Linked DNA regions of Homo sapiens. The protein of the gene in region 1 purifies or fractionates together with the protein of each later gene. This does not show direct contact. Each region holds a gene or a part of one and is shown on either strand. Other genes may lie near its edges.

Region 1 (4,068 bases):
CCATGGCAGGGAGGGGGTGCGGGCAGGAGAGTGCGGTCGACCAAAGACAGAATTTCAAACACTGGGACAGAAGAGGGAAGGGCATTCCTGGCAGTGGGAACAGCAGGAGCAAAGACCAGGATGAGGTGGGATTTGGGTGCTCAGGCTGAAGAGCTCCAGTGTGAGTCTGGGCTTAGCTGAGATCATGGCCTTGACCGCCAGGGCCCAGGAAGACACAGGCTGCTTGTCACACATCCCTCCCCCAACCCCCACACCCTACACACTGGCAGCTGCAGGACTGGGAGCAGGGGGTGGCAGGATCACAGACCAGACACAACCTGGGGAGGCTGGAGCAGGCAGTCTGGGGGGATGTCCTTGGGGGGAGCTGGGAGCTGAGCAGGAGATGGTCTGAGGCATCCCAACCCAAAATCACTGTCCCCTGTCTGAGCCCCGGGTAAGGAACTTTCCCTCAATTTCCTTACCTGCAAGGAGGTGGTAAGCCCTGCCTGAGGGCAGCTTTATCAGAAGGTTAGAGATGAAGGTACCCAGCTGGCAGGTGGCTGGGGGCATGGGATTAGCACCCCCAAGAGACCCCAGCTCCTCCCCACCCCACTCTCTATCCAGGACCTTCTCTGCTGACCCAGTAGTTTTTGGCATTTGTCTCCTTAAGCCTCTGAGCACACCCTGTAGCTGGCTGTCCGGGTGGCAGTTCACTCCCAGGCCCCCAACACCCAGCCTGACCACTCAAAGGAGCTCGGAGGTGGGACCAAGGTCCTCCTGGAAAGATTCCAGCCCAGAATCTTGGAAGATCCAGCACACAGATCTGCCTTGGAACACAGATGACCTGAGGCAGGAGGGATCCCTGAGGAGCCAGCAGCAGAGAGTGGCCCGTAACACTCCCCTGCCCCCTTCCAGGCAGTCTGGGGGGTCCCTGGGCTGCCTGGGGTGAGCCAGTGGGGGCTCTCCTGGATGAGGGGGGTGGGGAGAAGAGCCGAGCACAGGGTGTGTAGGAGTCAAGGAGGGTCCCCACAAAGGGAAGAAGGGGCGGCCCCAGGCCATGGTGGCGGAGGCGGGGAGCTGGAGGGGTCAGGAAAGGGCAGGGAGGGGACCGGCCTGATACTGGAGGAATGAGGAAGGGACAGGGAGGGTCCCAGTTGGGTGGGGTGGGCCTAGAGGGCCAGGCTGGGAGTGGGAGGAGCAGCCTGGAAGGCTGGGGAGCCCCTGGAGGGGCGGGGTCTTCACACCTCCACCCTGGGGAAACTCTACCCCACTAATCCGCTCAGCAGACCAGTCTGTCGCCACCTCACTTGGTGTCTGCTGTCCCCGCCAGGCAAGCCTGGGGTGAGAGCACAGAGGAGTGGGCCGGGACCATGCGGGGGACGCGGCTGGCGCTCCTGGCGCTGGTGCTGGCTGCCTGCGGAGAGCTGGGTGAGGTGTGGGACCCACAGGGGAGCTGGGACGGAGGGAGATGCCACCCACTGACATTCACACTGTTCCCGGGAGGGCGCCCCAGGAAGGGGCCTCAGAGGCAGGAGAAGCCAGAGCTGTGGGGCCGGGGGTGTGGCCCCCCCGCCATAAGGAGGGGAGGGTGGAAACGGAGAGAGGGGCTGGCGGTGAGGGGGACGCCTAATGAGGGTGAGCAGAGGGTGGCCTTCGAGGTGGGCGGGGGCCCAGCCAGCCACACCCCTGAGCACCAGCCTGGGTGTCACACTTTATGGGGGGCTATGGGCACCCAGAAGGGCCTTGAGCGGGGGAAGGAAGGCAACCCCAGGGAGGCTCTGAGGCTGGGGTGGCAGTAGAGATGGAGAGGAGTGGGGAAACCAGACACATGGGGTGGGGTGACTCCCTGATGTGGAGCCTGAAACAACCATCAGGGGCAATGTCCTGGACTCAACCAGAAGCAGCTTGGCCCAGAGGCCCCTGGCAGATGGCTTTGCCCATTTCCCAGAAACAGGTGCACCAGAGAGGGGCAGAGGCCCCGCTGCATCCCCACAGTGGGGACAGAGGAGTCGGGCCTAGCTGTGCAGCTGGCTGCCCTGGCCAGCTGGAACCAGCCAGACCCACCTGGGCTGCTGCGGTTGGGGCCGGGGTCACCGGAGCAGGAGGGAATTGGAGCCTCTCCGGTCCCCGTCCCTGCCGGTCTGCAAGTCCCTGTGGGAGAGGAGTGGGCACCCAGACACAGCCCGGATGCAGCCTGGCACACCCTGCATTCCATGGGCCTCCTGGCCTGATCCCTTGACCTCCACAGCAGCACTTCCCTGATGGGGAAACTGAGGGGGTAACCTGCCCCCAGCCACGCCCCCACCCAAGGCTTCCTGCCCGAGGTGCCTCTTGCTATGAAGATGCCAGGGCCTTGGTCCCCCTGAGTCTCCCAAACACTTCCAAAGGGGCTTGGCTTGGCTCCTCCCAGGCCTTGCAGGCTGGATCCCCACCCCCAGCAGCCGACTCTGCCTCTGGGATGCAAGGTTCCGAGGCTGAGCCCGGCCTGTCCCCAGCTGCAGGCTCCTGGCATTGCTCCTGAGTTTTGGCTGGTAGGCATCTCTACCCTGGCCAGTGTCACTGTCCTCTTCAGACCTGGGCTTCCAGGACAGACTGTCTCTGGGCTTGGGAGGGGTGGAGCCTGCCTGACCGCCCTTGTCCCTTCTCCCCAGCGCCGGCCCTGCGCTGCTACGTCTGTCCGGAGCCCACAGGAGTGTCGGACTGTGTCACCATCGCCACCTGCACCACCAACGAAACCATGTGCAAGACCACACTCTACTCCCGGGAGATAGGTCAGTGGGCACAGAAGGCGGGCAGGGCCGGGTTCCCGGTCAGAGCCACCTCCAGCCCAGTCACACTCTACTCCCAGGAGATAGGGCAGTGAGCACGGAAGGCGGGCAGGGCTGGGTTCCCGGTCAGAGCCACCTCCAGCCCAGTCACCACCAGCCAGCTTGGCCCCAGTGCACAGCCACCACCTCACCCATCTCCAGAAATGGCTTTCTGCCCGAGCTAGGCCTCCCTCTGCCCTCCCCTTCCTTCCTCTCTCCCTCATGTCCTTCGGTGGGAACATATCTGCAACCTCGTTTTGGGGGGACTGGAGAAGCTGGGCACACTTACAGGCTTTGGTTTCAACAGTCACCTCGGGGCGGGAACTGCCCCATCAGGCCGGGTGCCTGGCACATGGTAGACACCCGGACAACGTCGGTGGGAGGAGAGAGGAAGAGGAGGGCACTGGGCCAGGAGGGACGGAGACCCGGGTGGGTGACCCCAGAGTGGGGCCTGCATGAGGTGGTACTGGCAGGGACCAGGGCTTGGAGGCAGTGACCAGCCCTGACGGCTGACTCTTCCCACACCCCACAGTGTACCCCTTCCAGGGGGACTCCACGGTGACCAAGTCCTGTGCCAGCAAGTGTAAGCCCTCGGATGTGGATGGCATCGGCCAGACCCTGCCCGTGTCCTGCTGCAATACTGAGCTGTGCAATGTAGACGGGGCGCCCGCTCTGAACAGCCTCCACTGCGGGGCCCTCACGCTCCTCCCACTCTTGAGCCTCCGACTGTAGAGTCCCCGCCCACCCCCATGGCCCTATGCGGCCCAGCCCCGAATGCCTTGAAGAAGTGCCCCCTGCACCAGGACTCCTGAGTCTCCTTTCTGGGCACAGACCTGCCCTGCTGCATCTCTGACCTCGTCGATGTCCCCGTTCCTGTGTGTCTGTCTCTCTTCCTGCCTTCCTGTGATGTTAAGCTCTATCCCATCGTGAGAACAGCCACTGGGCCTGGGACCCCCACACAAACCATGCAGATCTCTGCCCTCAGGGGATGTGGGGGCCTGACCAGGGTGGGGCAGCAGCTGAGACCCTTCGGCAAGGGAGCACCACATCTACCAGGGTGAAGTCAGGGCCATCTCCTTGGAGGAGGGGGCATTAGGGCCAAGCCTTGAAGGATGGAGAGATCTGGCAGGCCTTGAGGAGGGCAAGGCATGTCAGGTGGAAGGAAGGTCAAGGCAGTGACCAGGAGCTGGGGTTGTCCTCTGGAGCACCCCACTACCCACCTCCCCAGCCTGAGCAGGGCCTTGCCCCAAGGCTGATGGCGGAGGCTGCTTTGAGGAGGAGA
Region 2 (3,500 bases), on another chromosome or scaffold:
AACGTGGGCTGAATGTGGTGGCTCACGCCTGTAATCCCAGCACTTTGGGAGGTGGAGATGAGAGGACTGCATGAGACCTGGAGTTTGAGACAAGCCTGGACAACACAGAGAGACCCTGTCTCTACGCAAAATAAAATAAATTAGCTGAGCATGGTGGCGTGCTCCTATAGTCCCAGCTATTCGGGAGATAGACAGGAGGATCGCTTGAGCCCAGGACTTGGTGGCTATAGTGAGCTACAGTCACACCACTGCACTCCAGCCTGGGCAACAGAGTGAGACCTGTCTATTTCAAAAAAAAAAAAAAAAAAAAAAGGAAAATGTGAAAAATTGTCAGTTTTTCTTTTATTTGATCAAAATTTTAAAATATGAATTAGTTACAGGCATAAAAATATAATATATACTTAAAACCAAGGTTTTCATAGAAAGAAGGCAAACCCGTATTTAAAAATAATATTAATTTTCAAAAATTAAATAAAAAATAACCATATAAATTGTTTTTTCATACTTACTGGAAGAACAAGACCTCTCAGTGTAATTTCTCCAGTCATGGCTACATCTGAACGTACCAGCCGCCCACTAAAAAGTGAGGCGAGACAGGTTACTATGGTAACTCCAGCAGATGGTCCATCTTTTGTGACAGCTCCAGCTGGGAAGTGCAGATGGATGTCTGTGTTGTCAAGAAGATCAAAACTTCCAAAAGCTTTAAAAAGGAAAAAGGGACTTTAATGTAGAAAAATTAAACCTGTTTTCTTTTTCTCCTAAAAAAAAAGTCACAAACAAAAATGAATGTTTTGGGTAAATGAATTCTTCAAAATATTGGTGGACAGTACAATTTGGGTGAGGGTGTGGAAGAACAGTTCCATTCTACTCTAAGTCGTATTAAAACAAAATAAACCTTTTGAATTAGTTTCTAGTTCAGGCACTAGTCAAATAGTCCTGAAATGGGAACTAGGATTTCCACAGGGGTTCAAAACGGTGTGTACTTTGCTAGATGTGTAACTGGCAGTCTCGAGCTCATGCCAGTCTCCGCCATGGAAGGTACCGCCTCCTGGGTCACGCCTGCCTGGCCGGGTGCAGGCTCCTACCATTGGTCAGCTGGTACTTCTTTGCGTTGCTGCGGAGCCAGCTGATAGCGAGGTGGGCGGACTCCTTCATCACGTCCCCGAGCTGGCCGGTCAGAGTTAACTGGCCCTCGCCATCCATTCGACTCGCCTCCACGAACATGATTTCTCCACCTAAGGGAGTCCAAGCCAAACCTATTGCTACTCCTGGCTGACTCAAACGCTGAGATACCTTGAAAGAAGAAGAATGATCAGAGTTGGGTTGGCAAATGCTAAAGGTGACTGATACCACACAATCCTGCAAGAGTCGGCTGACTCCACAGAAGACTTCAGCCACTTACCTCAAAGTCCTTGTTACCTAACATGATTCTGCGTCACATTCAGCACTTACTCTCTGGCTTTCTGCCAGAAGAAAGACCTAAACTTCCTCTTTGACATTTATCAGAGGCAATTTTACCTTAAAATATATGTAAATAACTTTGCTTTTTATGAGCCAGATCTAGCTACACATGCCCTAGTTTTCAAGGAATAAACCCAATAGTTTTATCTAAGTATCTTTATTGGGCTGCAAATATATATATATTTTGAGACAGTCTCACTCCATTGCCCAGGCTTGAAGTACAGTGACACAATTTCAGCTCACTGAAAACTCTGCCTCCTGGCTTCAAGTGATTCTCCTGCCTCTGCCTCCCAAGTGGCTGGTACTATGGGCGCACACAGGCCACCACACCCGCTAATTTTTGTATTTTTTGTAGAGATGTGGTCTCACCATGTTGGCCAGACTGGTCTCAAACTCCTGACCTCAAGTGATCTGCCTGCCTCAGCCTCCCAAAGTGCTGGGATTACAGGTGTGAGCCACCACACCCAGCCTATTGGGCTGCATATTTATATATACTTCATAACCTAGCTTCATTTTAGGTAATCATGAATTTGTTTCAAAAAGTAGAAACCCTCTTACTAGCAGACCTTTAAGAAGAGTGAGCTTGGCCATGCAGAGTGGCTCATGCCTGTAATCCTAGCACTTTGGGAGGCTGAGACGACAGGATCGCTTGAGCCCAGGAGTTCGATAGAGACCAGTGTGGGCAACATGGTGAGACCCTCTTATTTTTTTTGAAAAGAAAAGTGAGAAGGGTTATATTAGAAACTCTAGATTTTACTTCTCCACCGCTTACCTTTAACTTTCTCTATTACTGCTGCAGAGACTATACAATACTACATAATAAACATCCTGGGTTCCTTCCCATGGGATGAGAGAGGTCCACTGTACTGCCTGCCATCTTAAATTGAACATGTTGTCACCTGAGACTAGGAGCATAGTTGATGGGCCATAGGTTAACACATCCAAGTTATGAAAACACTAAAAAGTAACAGTGGAAAATCAGTAATGTTAACTCTCATTACACCCTTTGAGCTTCAAAATTTCCTATCCAATAGAAGTTACTCATGTTAGAGGAACTGAACACAATAGGTCAACTAAGCACTAATCCAAACAGGAGATTTTTCTACTGAGAGTTGACCGTCTCACTAAGGAACAGCACTATACAGCTTGACTTTCTGGGTATGGGGCTGGGTTGCTTCTTTTTCTAAGGGGCTTGGACAATGAAATTCCTGATTGTAAAAATTATTCCAAAATTATGTGGCATCCATTGAAGCTATTGGGCACTTCTTTTCCTCTTTTTTTTTTTTTTTTTTTTGAGACATGAGTCTCACTCTGTCGCCTGGGCTGGAGTGCAATGGCACAATCTTGGCTCAATGCAACCTCCGCCTCCTGGGTTCAAGCAGTTCTCCTGCCTCAGGCTCCGAGTAGCTGGGATTACAGGCATGTATCACCACACCCAGCTAATTTTTGTATTTTTAATAGAGACAGTGTTTCGCCATGTTGGCCAGGCTGGTCTCAAACTCCTGACTTCAGGTGATCTGCCAGCCTCGGCCTCCCAAAGTGCTGGGATTACAGGCGTGAGCCTCTGCGTCTGGCCGAGCACTTATTTTCAGTAGTAAACATACATTAAAAAAAATTAATCCTAATTAACTTCATTTAACAGGTTAGAGATTTGAGAGGCCAAACTCCAGCATCAAGCTGACAGCATGTACCTCAGGTCACACTTTCCTCGAGCTTTGCCACTTGCCCTGTTCTATACTAACTTGAGGCGAAAGACACAAACGATCTATATGTAAGAGATCAGTACTACTTAAGGAAAATCATGAAACAGTTATTTATAAAACTGTTTACAAGGTTTGTTTTTTCTAATATAAAATCAATTCTCTATACCTGAATGACATACATCTAATTTGTGTGGGAATCTGTCACCCAAATTAGACTTCATTCAGGCTCCTTTCTAGGGTTGGGTGAATGAATCGTGTTTAACACAAAAAGTCATTTGGTACAATTTTGTTAACTCTACCAAGAATAATCCCTTTCTTATATTTGAATCCTCACAA
Region 3 (3,500 bases), on another chromosome or scaffold:
GCACCTTAGAAATTTCTCTATCTATCATTTTAAGAAAATCCACCGGCCTGCTGCGTCGCCATGCTTCTGCAGCTGGTCCAGGGACAGAGCTTCGAGTGGGCTGGCCCAGCCTCATTTCCCCCATCAACCCCATTAATTTTTTTGTATGGGTTTGCAGAAACGCGGTTTTTATGGAGGCATGGCACAGCACTGTAGGAGAAATGGCAACCTGTGTTGCTTTGAACTCTCTTACCTTGTTATTCGTAGGTGACTGTTAGTTACACTTGCAAAAGCCAAATGAAACACTGTCATGATTTTATAGTTCCATCTCTTGTTAAAATTGGAAAACCACTAAACTCTACCTATTGAAAGTAAGTAAAGGTAATTTTTTGAGTTGAAAAAGAAAGAAAGAAAAAGAGAAAAAAAGAACCTGGAGCAAAAAGAATTAAGTGCCTTTACTAGGATGAAAAGTCATGAATTACGGGCTTGTGATGACAGGATTTCAGTTTTCATTTGAATCAGTTAAATTATCATGCAAATTGATGCAAAACTGAGATCCATTTATTCATTGAATTAAAAAGGCTGGAAGGAATAAATAGACGAGGTTAGAAGAAAATATGTTGCTTGATTGAATGAATTCACTACTTTGCACTGTGTCTTGCAGTATGGTATTTGGAAGTCAACTGGATATCCATTCAGGTGGGATAGATTTAGCTTTTCCACATCATGAAAACGAAATTGCACAGTGCGAAGTCTTTCATCAGTGCGAGCAGTGGGGAAATTATTTTCTGCATTCTGGTAAGTAATAACTTCAGATTAATTTGTTCTGTTTCAATTCTAGCAGTTCTGTCTTTGTCGGCGGAACAGCTACATTTGGAAATACATAGTAGATCAGCTAATAGGTCAAGAAATGGATTTGCCTCTTAAATTATTTTTGAGTTTCAATCATTTGAACATGAGCTTCCTTGGATTGCAGCAATGATTATACCTTTTTGGAACTGACTAGAATATGGAAAATGTTTGGCAATGCTGTTCTATATAAGGTTTCTTTCAAGTAAAACTATTAAGAAGGAACTTGAAGTAGTACAATGTAACGATAATTATGAACATCCTTTCTGAAGCTATAATGTTGTCACTAGACATCTCTGCCATCTTCTAATAACATTGCCCTTTCTTCCACTGTTCAAACACCTAACTGATGAACCCCAGCTGTCTGCTCTCAGAAGTGGATGCAACACCATGAGTTAAGCAACACCTCGAACCCAGCAGTTTTGGAATTCACTTGGATGCACTGGAAGAGTCGTATTTCCAAGTTTACAGGGTCACGATTAACTAGTCTTATTACCTTTTGGGGATGGACAGCTAAGGTATTTGAGATGAAGAAAGATAAAGAGTGTTTGGTAGTGATAGGATTTGGAGATGCAAACTTCGACATCTAAAATACAGAAAATTAACAAATACTATCTTTTGAAGTCCTTGAATTGGGAAATTAGGATGTCACAGTAAAGTGACATTAAGTGCAGAAGTGCTCTGGTTTTCTGGTCCGCAGCAGAGTTCACTTGGGTTTCTTCGTGAAAGTACATGAGGCTGATTGCCCCGAAGTCACTTCCTGCAGCATGTCCTTCACCCCGGGCTTACCCTGTTGAGTCGGGGAACCCAGCAGGCGGCTCTGCCCCTACCATTACCTACTATGTCTGCCTCTCACAGTGCCCCAGTTTTTGTCTAAAAATGAAGCAGAAACAAAGCTGGCTGCGTGGCTGTTTGAGGACTTAGGAGCTGTTGTCCAGCACCCCATACCATTTCCCTGGGGAGGGCTCAGCACTAGCTGAAATCCACTTTATTCCGGTGTCGGTGGAGTTTCTAATCAGAACAAACGCCTGCCGCCCTCACTTCCGTTTCAGCTGGCGCTCACATGGGAAGGGGGTGCACGCTGCCCAGTGGTGGAATATTTAAGGCATCGCCCCTCAGGGAGCCGAGCACTGATTTCCACAGCCGGGGGCCTGCACTCCACTTTTGACCATGGGGAAGGAGGTCTCTCTTCCGTGGCCCAAGGACTTCTGAATTGTGTTCTTGGAGAGGAAGCGTGCTGGGAGCCCAGATAGTGGGGCTGAGACACTGTGTCTCAGGCACAGAGGTAGTCGTGTCCCTTGTCCCAGATGAAGAAAGATAAAGAGTGTTTGGTAGTGATAGATTTGGAGATGCAAACTTTGACATCTGAAATACAGGAAATTAACAAATACTAGTTTTTGAAACCCTTGAATTGGGAAATTAAGATGTCACAGTAAGGTGACATTAAATGCAGAAGTGCTCCGGTTTTCTGGTCCGCAGCAGGGTTCACTTGGGTTTCTTCATGAAAGTAAATAGATGAGGCTGATTGCCCCGAAGTCACTTCCTCGTTGACTTCGTTCAGGGCTCAGTTCAGCGCTCCCTGAACTGTCTGAGGAGCTGGAGTTGCTCCCTCCGCAGGCACGTTTCTGTCTGCAGGTTTATCCTGTTCAGTAGGTCAGGGTTTGTTACTGACAACCATGACCTGCTGTGAGCCCTTCTGCGAGTGTGGAGCTGGGGGGCAAGAAGGGCAGCCTTAGCTGTGCCAACGCTTCGTCCTGTCAGGTAATGAGGAGGGGCCGGGTCTAGAAACGGAGGTCGTGTTCACCTTCCGATGTGGGAATGGGAAAGCATTTGCTGTTGTTGTTGAAACAATTTCGCTCCGTCCCCCAGCCTGGGAGTGCAGTGGCACTATCTGAGCTCACCGCAACCTCTGCCTCCTGGGTTCAAGCAATTCTCCTGCCTCAGCTGTTCTAGTAGCTGCGACTACAGGTGCATACCACCATACCCAGCTAATTTTTGTATTTTTAGTAGAAGCAGGGTTTCACCATGTTGGCCAGGCTGGGCTCAAACCCCTGACCTCAAGTGATCTGCCACCTCTGCCTCCCAAAGTGCTGGGATTATAGGCGTGAGCCACTGCACGTGGTGGGAAAGTTTTGTGGCTATTTTTCAGTGATTTTTTACTACCTGTTAAGATACCAGCGATCTTTTTCATACTAGTTTGGCCCCAAACAAAACATCAGTGTCTCCTGACGCAGGAGAAGTGACACCTGTTCTCCTGTACCCAGTGGATGGAAGAGCTAAGTGGGCAGACACTATCCCAGCCTGTTAGGGCTGCTATAGCCAAACTGAAAGCGGGCGTGTTATGAACAACAGCAATGAATTCCTCACAGTTCTGCTGGCTGGGAGTCCTGCGTCAGCGCACTGGCAGACTCGGTGTCTCGGGAGGGCCTGCTTCCCATTTGTAGACGGCCGTCAGCTCTCGAGGGGCCTCTGTTATGAGAGCACTGATTCCATTCACACTGGCTCTGCCCCTGTGACCTCATCACCTCCCACAGGCCCTGCCTTCAGTTACCGTCACCTGAGGGCTGAGGATTTTGACAGGAATTTGGGAGGACATAAACATTCAGGCCTTAGCAAATGTGTTTTATTTTCCAACTATCATCAATTTTAAAAAATCAGAATCGTGCTTGGTG

The links.
Region 2: the proteins of LYPD2 (region 1) and LONP2 purify together in Homo sapiens (affinity purification with mass spectrometry; one large-scale study listed by BioGRID and IntAct). This does not show direct contact.
Region 3: the proteins of LYPD2 (region 1) and CARS2 purify together in Homo sapiens (affinity purification with mass spectrometry; one large-scale study listed by BioGRID and IntAct). This does not show direct contact.

Annotation. Positions count from the first base shown.
Region 1 is NC_000008.11:142,749,733-142,753,800, reverse strand, and holds LYPD2 (ly6/PLAUR domain-containing protein 2 precursor), read left to right. Parts: upstream 1-1,268; 5' UTR 1,269-1,349; coding exon 1,350-1,407; intron 1,408-2,630; coding exon 2,631-2,750; intron 2,751-3,318; coding exon 3,319-3,518; 3' UTR 3,519-3,651; downstream 3,652-4,068.
Region 2 is NC_000016.10:48,345,300-48,348,799, reverse strand, and holds part of LONP2 (lon protease homolog 2, peroxisomal), read right to left. Parts: exon of another isoform or gene 1,889-3,500; intron 1,294-1,888; coding exon 1,086-1,293; intron 701-1,085; coding exon 510-700; intron 1-509. UniProt on the Homo sapiens protein: ATP-dependent serine protease that mediates the selective degradation of misfolded and unassembled polypeptides in the peroxisomal matrix.
Region 3 is NC_000013.11:110,664,617-110,668,116, reverse strand, and holds part of CARS2 (probable cysteine--tRNA ligase, mitochondrial), read left to right. Parts: intron 1-643; coding exon 644-777; intron 778-1,188; coding exon of another isoform or gene 1,189-1,346; exon of another isoform or gene 1,347-2,589; intron 2,590-3,500. UniProt on the Homo sapiens protein: Mitochondrial cysteine-specific aminoacyl-tRNA synthetase that catalyzes the ATP-dependent ligation of cysteine to tRNA(Cys). In addition to its role as an aminoacyl-tRNA synthetase, has also cysteine persulfide synthase activity.